2 linked regions of the Homo sapiens genome follow. The protein of the gene in region 1 interacts with the protein of each later gene in a biochemical or structural test. Each region holds a gene or a part of one and is shown in the gene's direction. Other genes may lie near its edges.

Region 1 (7,044 bases):
GTCTTCTTCACTTGAGTCTGAGCCTGAGGATGGCAGGACCCTGGGCGTGGGCATCGCCATGATGGGCAGGGCCTAGCAGAGCACGGGTGCTCAGACATTTCTGGAAAGCAGGATCCAACCCTGCTTTTAGTGGCCCAGCCACTCTGGGCCAGGCCCAGGGCTCAATGCTCCTGAGCTCAAGGGGTGCCCAGCATGGCTGGAAGGCAAACAAGCAAGCAGAAAGCAGCGGCCTGTGACGAGGGCCAAGGGAGTAGGTGCAAGGGCTCCAGGCATGCAGCCTCAAGGCAGGTTGGGGGTGGCTCCTAGCAAGGCTTCTTGGAGGAGGTAGGGGTGAGTGGGCACAGCTTGAGCCCAGCGATGAGTAGGCGGTGCTAGGGACAACAACAGCCACCATCTGCCAAACGCTTCCTCCAAGCCTCACAGCAGCCCTGTGAAGTGTGGAAACTTTTATCGTCCTCATTGTACAGAAGAGGAAGCTGAGGCCCATAGAGGCCCAGGGTTACAGAGCTCGGAAGTGCCCTCCAGTGCCCACCAGAGCGCAAGGCGAGGGGCATGTTGAGGGTTGGCTGGGTGCTAAGTAAGGGTCTTGGGAGTTGGGACAAAGAGCTTGGACTTGAGCTCCCTTCTCATTTTAATACACTCGTGGGCTCTCAAAGTTGGATGAGGCCTCAGAGGTGATCTCCCAGCATTGCCACTCTCCCTGGAAAAGGGACCCCAGTAAGCAGCCTCTCAAGAACCAATATTGAGAGGCAGCCTATGTGATCACTGAGCACTGAGGCTGAGTCACTTGGGCCCTGCAAGCTGCATGATCTGGGGCGTGACAGCTCATAAGGCCCAATTTCCTTATCTGTAAAACAGAAATGGTGATGCCTGCCTCCTGGCGCTTGGCACAGGGCTGTCATTTACAGACAGGTTCACCAGCTGGATCTTGCAGGCAGTACAGGGTTCTTACCATCTCCCCATTGCACAGAAAGGATGGCTGTGGCTCAAAGAGGAAGTGCCTTTCCATTTGAGTTCTGCTGCTAGCTCAGGGCAGACCTAGGACTTGCCCTCTGACCTTACTCCTGCTGTGTGACTCCCCAGCTGCACCTCTCTCCATCCACGGGTCAGGCCTCAGTTGAACCCTGGTGGGGTGGTGGGGGCTCACTGGCTTCACAAGGCCCTGCTGTGGTAGCTCTTCCCACCTCATTCTCTCAGTGCTGGTTTGCCCAGAGCTGTGGTTCCTTCTTCCTGGCCCCTGGTCTCATCTCCACTCTATCATATCCAGCATCTGCCTGGGCCACCTGCTTTTACTTCTTTAAGCCAGGGCCATTTTCTTGGCAAGCTTCTCTCTTCCCCTTCGTCGTTTCTTGGCATCCTCCCTGGTCTCACCCCATCCCATGTCAACCACCCATGTTCATCAGCCTGAAAAACCCCCGGCCCTGGGAGGCGGCAGGAGCATTGAATTAGGAGTTGGTGTATTTGGTGCTCTTCCTGGCTCTGTCTGGTCTGATCAGGCCATGTCATCTGACCTTTCTGGGCCTCACTTTCCCCATCTATAAAGAAGACAGAGCCCTGGTAACACAGCGAGACCCCATCTCTACAATTTTTTTTTAAATTAATTAGCAGGGTGTGGTGATGCCTGCCTGTGGTCCAAGCTACTTGGGAGGCTGAGGTGGGAGGATAAGTTGAACCCGGGAGGTCACGGTTGCAGTATCATGACTGTGCCGCTATACTCCAGCTTGGGTGACAGAGGGAGACCCTTTCTCGGAAAAAAAAAAAAAAGGGTTGAGGCAGGCATTGTATGAGATGATCTATTCTGCTATTGTTTTTAGGTTTGCCTATTTGTCCTTAAGGTAGTTGTTAAAAGAAAAGTGTCTTGGTATCATTCTGTTAGGCGAGTTTTTCCTGGGAATCTCAGGGACTATGTGGGGAGCCCCCGGAGGGGCTGGGGGCAGGTATAGCCCCTTCAATGGTAGGAAATATAGGGGAGAGGAGAAGGCCAGCTGGGGCCTACCATTTCACCTGCTGCAAAAGCAACAGGAAACACATCTGCACCTCCCTGGTACAGCCACTGCACCACTGAGAGGAAAGGAATTAGGTCCCCAGAGCCCTGACCCACATCCTGCCGCAGCCTGCTTGTCCTGTTGAAAAACAGCCTCTCTGAGGCCCCAAAAGTTATTGGTGTGTTGTAGGGCACACCCAAACAGATGACTTACTTGGGGGCCAGGTCCCATCAAAGATGACAGAACAGGCCCCTGGTCTGTACCCAGCCAGCATCTACCTGCCCTCCACCTTTCTGCTCTGTTGTCTGTCACGGCTGTCCCCACCGCTCCGTATTCTCCCCTGAAGCCAGAACACAGCTGTATGCGCCACACGTGTTTCAGAAGAGGAGGCCAGAGCTTTGTCAGCTTCTCAAAGGGGTCTGTGACCCAGAAATAGTTGCACAACCTAAGGTCTGTCCCATATCTGTTCTGGCCAGCAGCTGTCCCTACATCCTCCCTGAGAGCCATCTGTCCCTCTTCTGACCTCCCTCTCCTGATGGTGCAGATGGGTGGGGGAAACAGACTTGAGAGTCAGCCCCGGCTCCCTTCCCAGTTCCTCCTCTCACCAAGTGGCTTGGGACGAGTCATTTTTCATCTCTGTGGGCCTGTTTCCTCATGTGTAAAATGGAACTAAATAACCCCTGCCTCAGCCTGGCGTGGTGGCTCACACCTGTAATCCCAGCACTTTGGGATGCCAAGGCGGGCGGATCACCTGAGGTCAGGAGTTCGAGACCAGCCTGACCAATATGATGAAACCCCATCTCTACTAAAAATACAAAAATTAGCCGGGTGTGGTGGCTCATGCCTGTAATCCCAGCTACTCAGGAGGCTGAGATAGGAGAATCGCTTGAACCCAGGAGGCAAGGTTGCGGTGATCCAAGATTGTACCATTGCACTCCAGCCTGGACAACAAGAGTGAAACTCCATCTCAAATAAATAAAAATAATTACCCCTGCCTTAAGCCTCAGGGTTGGCGTAAGGACCATGTGTGCAAGGTGGAGTTGGGCACAGTAGCAAACATGGACAGGGTGCGTGTTCCAAGCTGGCTCTTAACATGGTTACTTCTTGGAGCCTTACAGCCATCCTAGGAGGCAGATACTACTGTCATCCATTCTAGAAGAGAATGCTGCAGCACAAGCATTAAATGACCTAAGGTCACACAGATAGAAGGGAGGAACTGGGATTTGAACCCAGAAGGCCTCGATCCAGAGCTGGGAGCTCTGCCCTGTACTTTTCAGCTGCCAACCCAGTGCCTGACACAGATCTGGGATCAGATCCTGCTTCTGCTGCTTACTACTGTGTTTCTCACAAGCCATGTAACTTTCTCTAACCCTCAGTTTCCTCATCTGAAAAAATGGAGGTGATTATAGCCTTTATAGATAGGCTTGATAAGAAGTGGGAATGGAATATGGATAGTAAACCCCTAGCACAAAATAAGTGCTCAATAAAAGACAGCTGCTGTTATTATCTAGCGTTGTCCTTTTCCCCAGGCAGTCAGTTAAGGAGACATTAAGACCACTGCCCAGCTTGGGAGGGAGCCACAGAGGCTAGGGCTGCTAGGGACATGACAGCCAAAAGGCGGCTCACAGGTGTCTGTCCTCTTTGCCAGGGGACTCATTGGCGCCCCCTGAGGTGGACTTTGACAGGCTGCTGGCCAGCCTGCAGGATCTTAGTGAGCTGGTGGTAGAGGGTGACACCCAAGTGACACCAGTGCCCGGCGGGGCACGGCTGCGTACCCTCGAGCCCATCCCGCTGAAGCTCTACCGGAATGGCATCATGATGTTCGACGGGCCCTTCCAGCCCTTCTACGATCCCTCCACACAGGTAGGAGCGGTGTTGGGGGGGGTGGTGCTCTAGTGCCCCTGCTGCCCACTGTTAGTTGGGGATGATGAAGCCAGCTCACCCCAGGCCCAGCCTGCCCTCCACGGGGCACCCAGGCCCACACACGACTTGCAGAGGCCCCTCTCCCAAGGCCTGGGACTCTGAATGTTTCCAGAGTGCGGCACTGGGTGACCCTGGATCTAGGGCCTGCCATCCAGACCAGTGGCAGGGCAGGGTGGGCCCAAGGCCCAGGCCACCCCCTCACTTTTCCTCTTCCCTTGCAGCGCTGCCTCCGAGACATATTGGATGGCTTCTTTCCCTCAGAGCTCCAGCGACTGTACCCCAATGGGGTCCCCTTTAAGGTGATAAGCTGCTCCTCAAACCACACCTTTGGGGATTTTGAAGGGAGTGGGGATACACAGCCTCCCCAGACACCTCCCATTCTGAGGGGAAGCCGCTGCACTCCCTGGGGGACCCCAGTCTGATGCCCTCCAGGAGGATAAGTCTGAAGCCGGGCTGGGAAGGGAGCGGAGAGGCCCGAAACAGAGCAGCAGGCAGCGCCCTCTGCTGGCACCCTGGAGACAGCCTCGGCTGCGGGGCCCCTGCCTTCTAGTCCTCCCCAGCTTTCAGGACACCTTGACAACCTGGGGTCCCTGCAGAAGTGGCCCGGCTGTCCCCCAAGTCTCCTGAAGCTATCTGGGTAGGGTGGGAGGCAGTGCTGTGAGCCACAAATGCAAAGCAGAGGGGACAGATGTTGGGACTCAAAGACATGAGGTAGAGCTGGCCCCATGGGTAGGTGCCACCACCAGAGCCCATGAGGCTTCGTGTTCTAGAAGGTGGTGGGTTAGTGCCGCACTGAGGGCGTGTCCGGGAGGGAGCATGTGTCACCAGGGCTCAGGAAACAGCATGAGTCATGACGCGGGGGTGTTTAAGGCATTCGTGCCACAGCGGGGACCTCGGAGCTATGCCTTGATAAGGCAAGTGAGGTTACATGTACGATGATGCGGTTTGTGCTGCAGACTGGAAAAAAGCAGGGGCTTTGTCCTCTCCTGACCCCCTCACACTCTGCCTTCACGGTAGGCTCCTGAGAGGGGGGTCTCCAAGGAGGGTGTCAGTACTGCAGCTTCAGCTGGCGTGGATGGGGTGCTTACAGGAGCAGCAGGGCTGAGGGAGATGACAGCAGTACGAACCGTGGCTCTCCTGAGGCCTGGGTTTCCTCATATGTAAAATGGGGGTTGCATTAGACCATACCCTTGGCCTGTGTTTAGGCAAATAGGGATGAAAGTGGGGCCAAGGGCTGAAGAGCTGGGTCCGCTGCCGTCGTTGCCCTTCTTTCTTGCCAGGTGAGTGACTTGCGCAATCAGGTCTACCTGGAGGATGGACTGGACCCCTTCCCAGGCGAGGGCCGTGTGGTGGGCAGGCAGCTGATGCACAAGGCCTTGGACAGGGTGGAGGAGCACCCAGGTGAGTTTGGCCTCCAGGCTGAGCCAGGGGGCTGGGGGACTGCAGAACAAACTCCAGGGGGGCTCCACCACCACTCATAGTCCTTCCTGGGCCCCGGTTCCCAACTCTGCCTGTAGGCTCCAGGATGACTGCTGAGAAATTTCTGAACAGGCTCCCCAAGTTTGTGATCCGGCAAGGCGAGGTGATTGACATCCGGGGCCCCATCAGGGACACCTTGCAGGTGAGGCCAATGCTAACTCCCCCAGCCCTCCTGGGGGAACTTTAGCACCAGCCCTGGTCCAGCCTGCCAGAACAGTGTCTTGTCAGAAGGCTCAAGCTTGAGGCACCTGATGAGTCCCTCAGAGCTGTTGCTCCACTGTCTCCTGGAAACTGTGAGGCTGGTGAGGGCACGGGCTGGGCCCCGGAAAGCAGGTGGGTTAGCTGTAAGAGGGCTAAAGTCAGAGTCCAGGCCAGGGGTGAGCCCAAGGCCCAGGCCACCCCATCAAGGTCTAGGCCAAAATATCCAACTCAGTACTGGGTACTCCCTTCGTGGTTGCCTCAGACTCTCCTTGGCCCTCATCATTCTGTCTCCTCGCTCCCTATTCTGCTTCTCCTCCTAGGTGTCCACCTGTGAAAGGCACCAAACCTTAGTTTCTCAGGCCTCCTCTGCCTCCCTCACCCACACATTGCTAAGTCCTGTCTGGTCTGTCCACCCCCAGAACTTCTCCCAGATGCATCCCTTCTCCACATTCCCACCACCCACCACCCTAGTCTAGGGTTCAGAGTGTCTCTCCCAGACAGCTGCCTCCCACTGCCACTCCTGCCCCTGCTGACCATCCTCCAGGCTGCCTTCCCTGTTGAAATGTTCCAGTGGTTCTTGAGATAAAGCCAGGTTCCTTATGCTGGCACTCAAGGCCCGTCCTATATTGCCAGGCCCCTCCTCACACCAACCTTTTCCTTCCAGTCCAATTGAGCCCCAGCTTCAGCCACACATAATGCTGGCAGTTGCCCAAATGTGTCGCCACCTCTAGGAAGCTTTCCCTGAACCCAGGATCTTTGTTGATGCTGTCTGGAATATCCCTGCATCCATTCCATTTCTAAGGACTCCCATTCATCCTTCAGTCACAGCTCAGTTGTCATTTTCCGAGGGAAGCCTTCCCTGACCCCAGGCTGGGGTGGGCTTCCAGCCTGATCATCGTCTGTGTGGGGTTCTGTCTCCATTAGACTGAAACGGGGGGTTACCTGGGGGGAACCATGGGGCTGCCTCCCAGAACCTTCTTCCCCTTCCATTGCCTCTCCTCTGGCCTTGGTTTATACAGAACACCCCCTCCCGCTTTGCTCACTGGTCTCATCTGTCCCTGGTCAAGGAAGTGTCCCTCTAAGGTTTGTGGGGATGACTCAAATGGGGCCTAGGGCTCTGTCCACCCTCCACTGATACCTTCCAGAACTGCTGCCCATTGCCTGCCCGGATCCAGGAGATTGTGGTGGAGACGCCCACCTTGGCCGCTGAGCGAGAGAGGTGAGGGCGGGATGAGGAGGTGAGGGCCTGGGGGCGTTGGGTCACCGCGTGCTGATGGCCTCTGGGCTGTGCAGGAGCCAGGAGTCACCCAACACGCCGGCACCCCCGCTCTCCATGCTGCGCATCAAGTCTGAGAATGGGGAACAGGCCTTCCTACTGATGATGCAGCCTGACAACACCATTGGGGACGTGCGAGCTCTGCTAGCGCAGGCCAGGTGGGTGCAGGGCAGGGCCAGG
Region 2 (4,355 bases), on another chromosome or scaffold:
CATGAGCAGGTGGGACCCTTGACGTCTGACCTCATCCCAGCCTAGACCTGTCACCTCTGCCCCTTCAGTCTCTGATTTGAAAACACCTTACCTGGCTCATCCTTTGTTCTGGTCTGTGACCTCTGACCTGATCCCTTGACTGCCCCCAGCCTTGACATTCAACCCCAGCCCACAGCCTCCATGCCCCTTTCTAAGCTGCAGGCTAAGACCTATAACTTTCTCCCATGCACTCCTTCCTTTTCCAGGGCACTGTGCTGGCCAAGCAGGTGGGGGCTGTGTCCTATGTTGAGTGCTCCTCCCGGTCCTCTGAGCGCAGCGTCAGGGATGTCTTCCATGTGGCTACAGTGGCCTCCCTTGGCCGTGGCCATAGGCAGCTGCGCCGAACTGACTCACGCCGGGGAATGCAGCGATCCGCTCAGCTGTCAGGACGGCCAGACCGGGGGAATGAGGGCGAGATACACAAGGATCGAGCCAAAAGCTGCAACCTCATGTGAGGGGCTAGGAGAGGGCAGAGTGTGAAGAGGGGTGGTGAGGGACACAATTGTTCCCCTGCCTGCGCCCAGGCTTCCTGACCTCCTGATCCTGGCTGGGAAGTTAGGGCAGGCAGAGCGAGCAATTCTGGGCAGGGGAGCTGGAGGGCAGAAGGGTATCATCGTTTCTCATCTCCTCCTCCCTCCTCTTCTCCAGTGGATGTTGAGGGAGCTAACAGGGCTGGCATCTGGGGCATGAACTGGGATGGGGCAGGTGGGCGTTAGGGAAGCTGGTATCAAATGGTGACCTTGGTGGAGTCTCCTATGTGAAGAGTACCCTCCCTCTCCACCCCCAGTCCCCATATCCTGGTTCTGGCCCAAGGAAAATGTCCATTCTATGACCTTCTCTTTTCCTCTCCTCTCACTTCTGCAGCTATTCTCACACATCTAACCTCTAGGCAACATGCACTAAATTCAAAAGCAAGGAGAAGCCCTTGCCCCCCATCAGTCCACCAGCCCTAGAACCTCCCTTGCCTCAACAGTCACCTAATAAAGCCCACCTCCATGGAAAACGGCTGTGGCTTTAGTTTTGTTGCTTTTTAAAAAAATCAATCTACCAATCTTTAGCAGTAAGAGGGAAAGTTAGACCTCAGCTGGGGAACTTTCCTGTCCATGTCCACAGATAGAGCAGAGGACAAAGCCATAGGTTGGATCAGAAGTGTCCTTTTAGGAGTCAGAGTTGGGAGAAGGAGACATCCTGGGACTGTTCATCCTAGTTAATGAAGTGGGCAATTCTCAGGCCATTAGGGGGTTTTAGAGCAGACCGACATATAATTAGTCAGCATTTCTCAGCCCAGCCAGGCCTGCTGCTAGTGTGGGAGGGGTCCTGCTCACCATCTGTACCCCTGGCTTGGAGCCTGCTGGTACCCTGGGGGTTGTGGGGATAAGGAGGCATCAGGCCGGGCGCGCTGGCTCACGCCTGTAATCCCAGCACTTTGGGAGGCCGAGGTGGGCGGATCACAAGTTCAGGAGATCGAGACCATCCTGGCTAACACGGTGAAACCCCATCTCTACTAAAAATACAAAAAATTAGCCAGGCGCGGTGGCAGTGCCTGTAGTCCCAGCTGCTCGGGAGGCTGAGGCAGGAGAATGGTGTGAACCCGGGTGAACCTGGGAGGCGGAGCTTGCAGTGAGCCGAGATTGCGCCACTGCATTCTAGCCTGGATGACAGAGCAAGACTCTGTCTCCAAAAAAAAAAAAAAAAAAAAAAAAGAAGGCATCAAAAGCCTCCACATCACAGAAGCTACCCCTGTACAGCGTGAAGTTTCCTAAGAGGTCAGTAGTTTGATTCTGGGGTCTCCTTAGAGGCTCAGGCCAGGGACCTTTCTCTCCTCCCATGCTGAGTTTCATGATGGCTTTCAGGGGAGCATCAGCTGTTAGAGTCACCCCTACCCTGTCCCTTAAAGGAAAGACGGTGGAGAGGACGGCTGAGCGCCTGTTGTCAGGAAAGACAGTACTGGTCTGTTTTCTCGGGAGTCTGGTTTCAGATTGTCCTGTATTCCCTTCCTGGCTCTGGTCCCACTGGCCTCTTTTCGGTGACATTCTCCCCCAGGAACCATCCCTGGCCCTTCCCTCCCCCAGCCCTAGCCAGTTCTCCCAGACACACTGGAAGAGAACACTGACCTTACCCAACTATCTGCTGGGATCCCACCCAAATTTATAGCCCATTCCTCCCTCATTCATTCATTCAGCAAGTATGTACTGAACACCAACTGTGTGGCATACACTGGCTTGGGAGATTGCAAGGACCAGTCTCTAAGCTTTTGGAGGCCAGCCCAGTGTGGAAGAGAGGTACCTCAGGTGTGAGGGTGCCATGGCTGAGGGATATTTGTACATGTATGGGATGCTATGGGAGCTCCTTGCAGCCTGAGAAGCCAGTCCTGTGAGCCAGGTCCTGAGGGTTGAAGAGGAGTTTTCCGGGCAGGGAAGGGGTAGGAAAGGCACTCTGGGCAGAGGGTACAGCATGTGTAAACACGTGGAGATGAGAATGAGCATAGCACTGTTGGGGCTCCCATGGCAGGGAGAATAGAAGACAAGGCTAGGAAGGTACACTGAGGCTACTGCAGGGTCCACAGAGGAATCAGAATTTCATTCTGAGGATGAATGAAATCATCCTCAGAGGATGAAGCCACCAGGAATTTCAGGCAGAGAGTGAAGTGATCAGAGTTGTTTTTTGGATAGATGGTTATCTGGATGTGGTGTTGGAGCTGGGAGATTTGGCTCTGAGGTGTGTCATTTAAAATAATAGCTTCTCGGCAGTGGCTCACACCTATAATCCCAGCCAAGATTCCTCCTTTGGGAGGCCAAGCTGGGAGGATCGCTTGAGGCCAGGAGTTAGAGACTGCAGTGAGCTATGATCATGCCATTGTCTTCCAGCCTGAGTGTCAGAGTGAGACCCTGTCTCTAAAAAAAATTAAAAAATAAAAAATAAAAAATAGCTTCTCCTTTCCCTTATGCCAGGTTCCAGTCTTGAGAGGAAAGGAATCCCTACCCACCACTCCCTGGATCATCAGATATCCCTATCCCAACCTCTCCTATGGGACTAGTTCATCTCAGCCAGTCTCAAAGATTCTAGGATAACTTCAATGGCATTTGAAATTATCTAAGTGTGCTTGGATAACCACCCCCTCAAACTGAGACCTGGTTAGGGACTGACTCAAAGACCCTGAGTCCTCGGCTAAGGGTACAGGAGAGGGCAGGGGCTCCAGGCCCAGCTAGGTGGATCTCCATCTGTCTCTGAGGACTGACCCTTTCCCCACAAGGACCTGCCATAAAAATCGACTTGCGATTTTTAGCTGAGTGGCTTCTCTTTTCCACTTTGGACTTCTCAGTGTATAGCAGGTTCAAGCCTGCAACCACCAAAGTGCAGAGTGTGGAGTGTTTGTGCCCCCTCTTTCCTCCAACCTCCATATCCTGCCATGTGAGCTCAGGGAATGCAAATGCATTTAAATATCCATCTAAAGCAAACATAATTAGAAAAATCAATCAGCTGGAGGACCCCCCAAAGTTTAATACATTTTCAATACCACCAGGAATGGATTTTTGGTCCCTTTCTGCAGGTCTGGGTTGCCAGACGTTTTATTTCTGGGGAGGAGGGCTCTGGGCTGAGGAGCTCAGTGGGTGGGAGGAGGGAATGGGACTGTTGCTGATCCTCAAAGGCCTCTGTAGGATGGAGGGAGGGGACCTTACTCCCTTCCCCACCCCAGATGCAGGAGTCACCCAGCTTCCTTCTCTGCGCTGTTTCCTTCACAAATTAGACATTGGTTTGGGAAACAATGTAGCCTCGTTAAACATTTAATGAAATAAACAAATAATCACACTGTGATGGCTGCCAGAGTTTCTGTGTTTTTTTTTTTTTTTTTTTTTTTTTTTTGAGACGGAGTTTCACTCTGTCATTCAGGCTGGAGTGCAGTGGCACCATCTCGGCTCACTGCAACCTCTGCCTCCTGGGTTCAAGCGATTCTCCTGCCTCAGTCTCCTGAGTAGCTGGGACTACAGGCGCGCGCCACCATGCACAGCTAATTTTAGTGTTTTTTTTTTTTTTGAGACGGAGTTTCACTCTTATTGCCCAGGCTGGAGTGCACTGGCGCGATCTCGGCTCACGGCAACCTCACCTCCTGGGTTCAAGTGATTCTCCTGCCTCAGCTTCCTGAAGTAGCTGGGATTACAGCCATGTGCCACCATGCCCAGCTAATTTTGTATTTTTAGTAGAGATGGGGTTTCTCCATGTTGGTCAGGCTAGTCTTGAACTCCCGACCTAACGTGATCCACCCACCTCGGCCTCCCAAAGTGCTGGGATTACAGGCATGAGCCACCGTGCCCAGC

What was found. Proteins that work in one complex are often made in the same cells at the same time.
Region 2: the proteins of UBXN11 (region 1) and RND2 form a complex in vitro, tested with the Homo sapiens proteins (one study listed by BioGRID).

Annotation. Positions count from the first base shown.
Region 1 is NC_000001.11:26,282,627-26,289,670, reverse strand, and holds part of UBXN11 (UBX domain-containing protein 11), read left to right. Parts: intron 1-3,633; coding exon 3,634-3,848; intron 3,849-4,129; coding exon 4,130-4,207; intron 4,208-5,188; coding exon 5,189-5,309; intron 5,310-5,425; coding exon 5,426-5,529; intron 5,530-6,733; coding exon 6,734-6,807; intron 6,808-6,881; coding exon 6,882-7,022; intron 7,023-7,044. UniProt on the Homo sapiens protein: May be involved in the reorganization of actin cytoskeleton mediated by RND1, RND2 and RND3. Promotes RHOA activation mediated by GNA12 and GNA13.
Region 2 is NC_000017.11:43,028,187-43,032,541, forward strand, and holds the end of RND2 (rho-related GTP-binding protein RhoN), read left to right. Parts: coding exon 1-9; intron 10-245; coding exon 246-494; 3' UTR 495-903; coding exon of another isoform or gene 904-928; 3' UTR 929-3,855; downstream 3,856-4,355.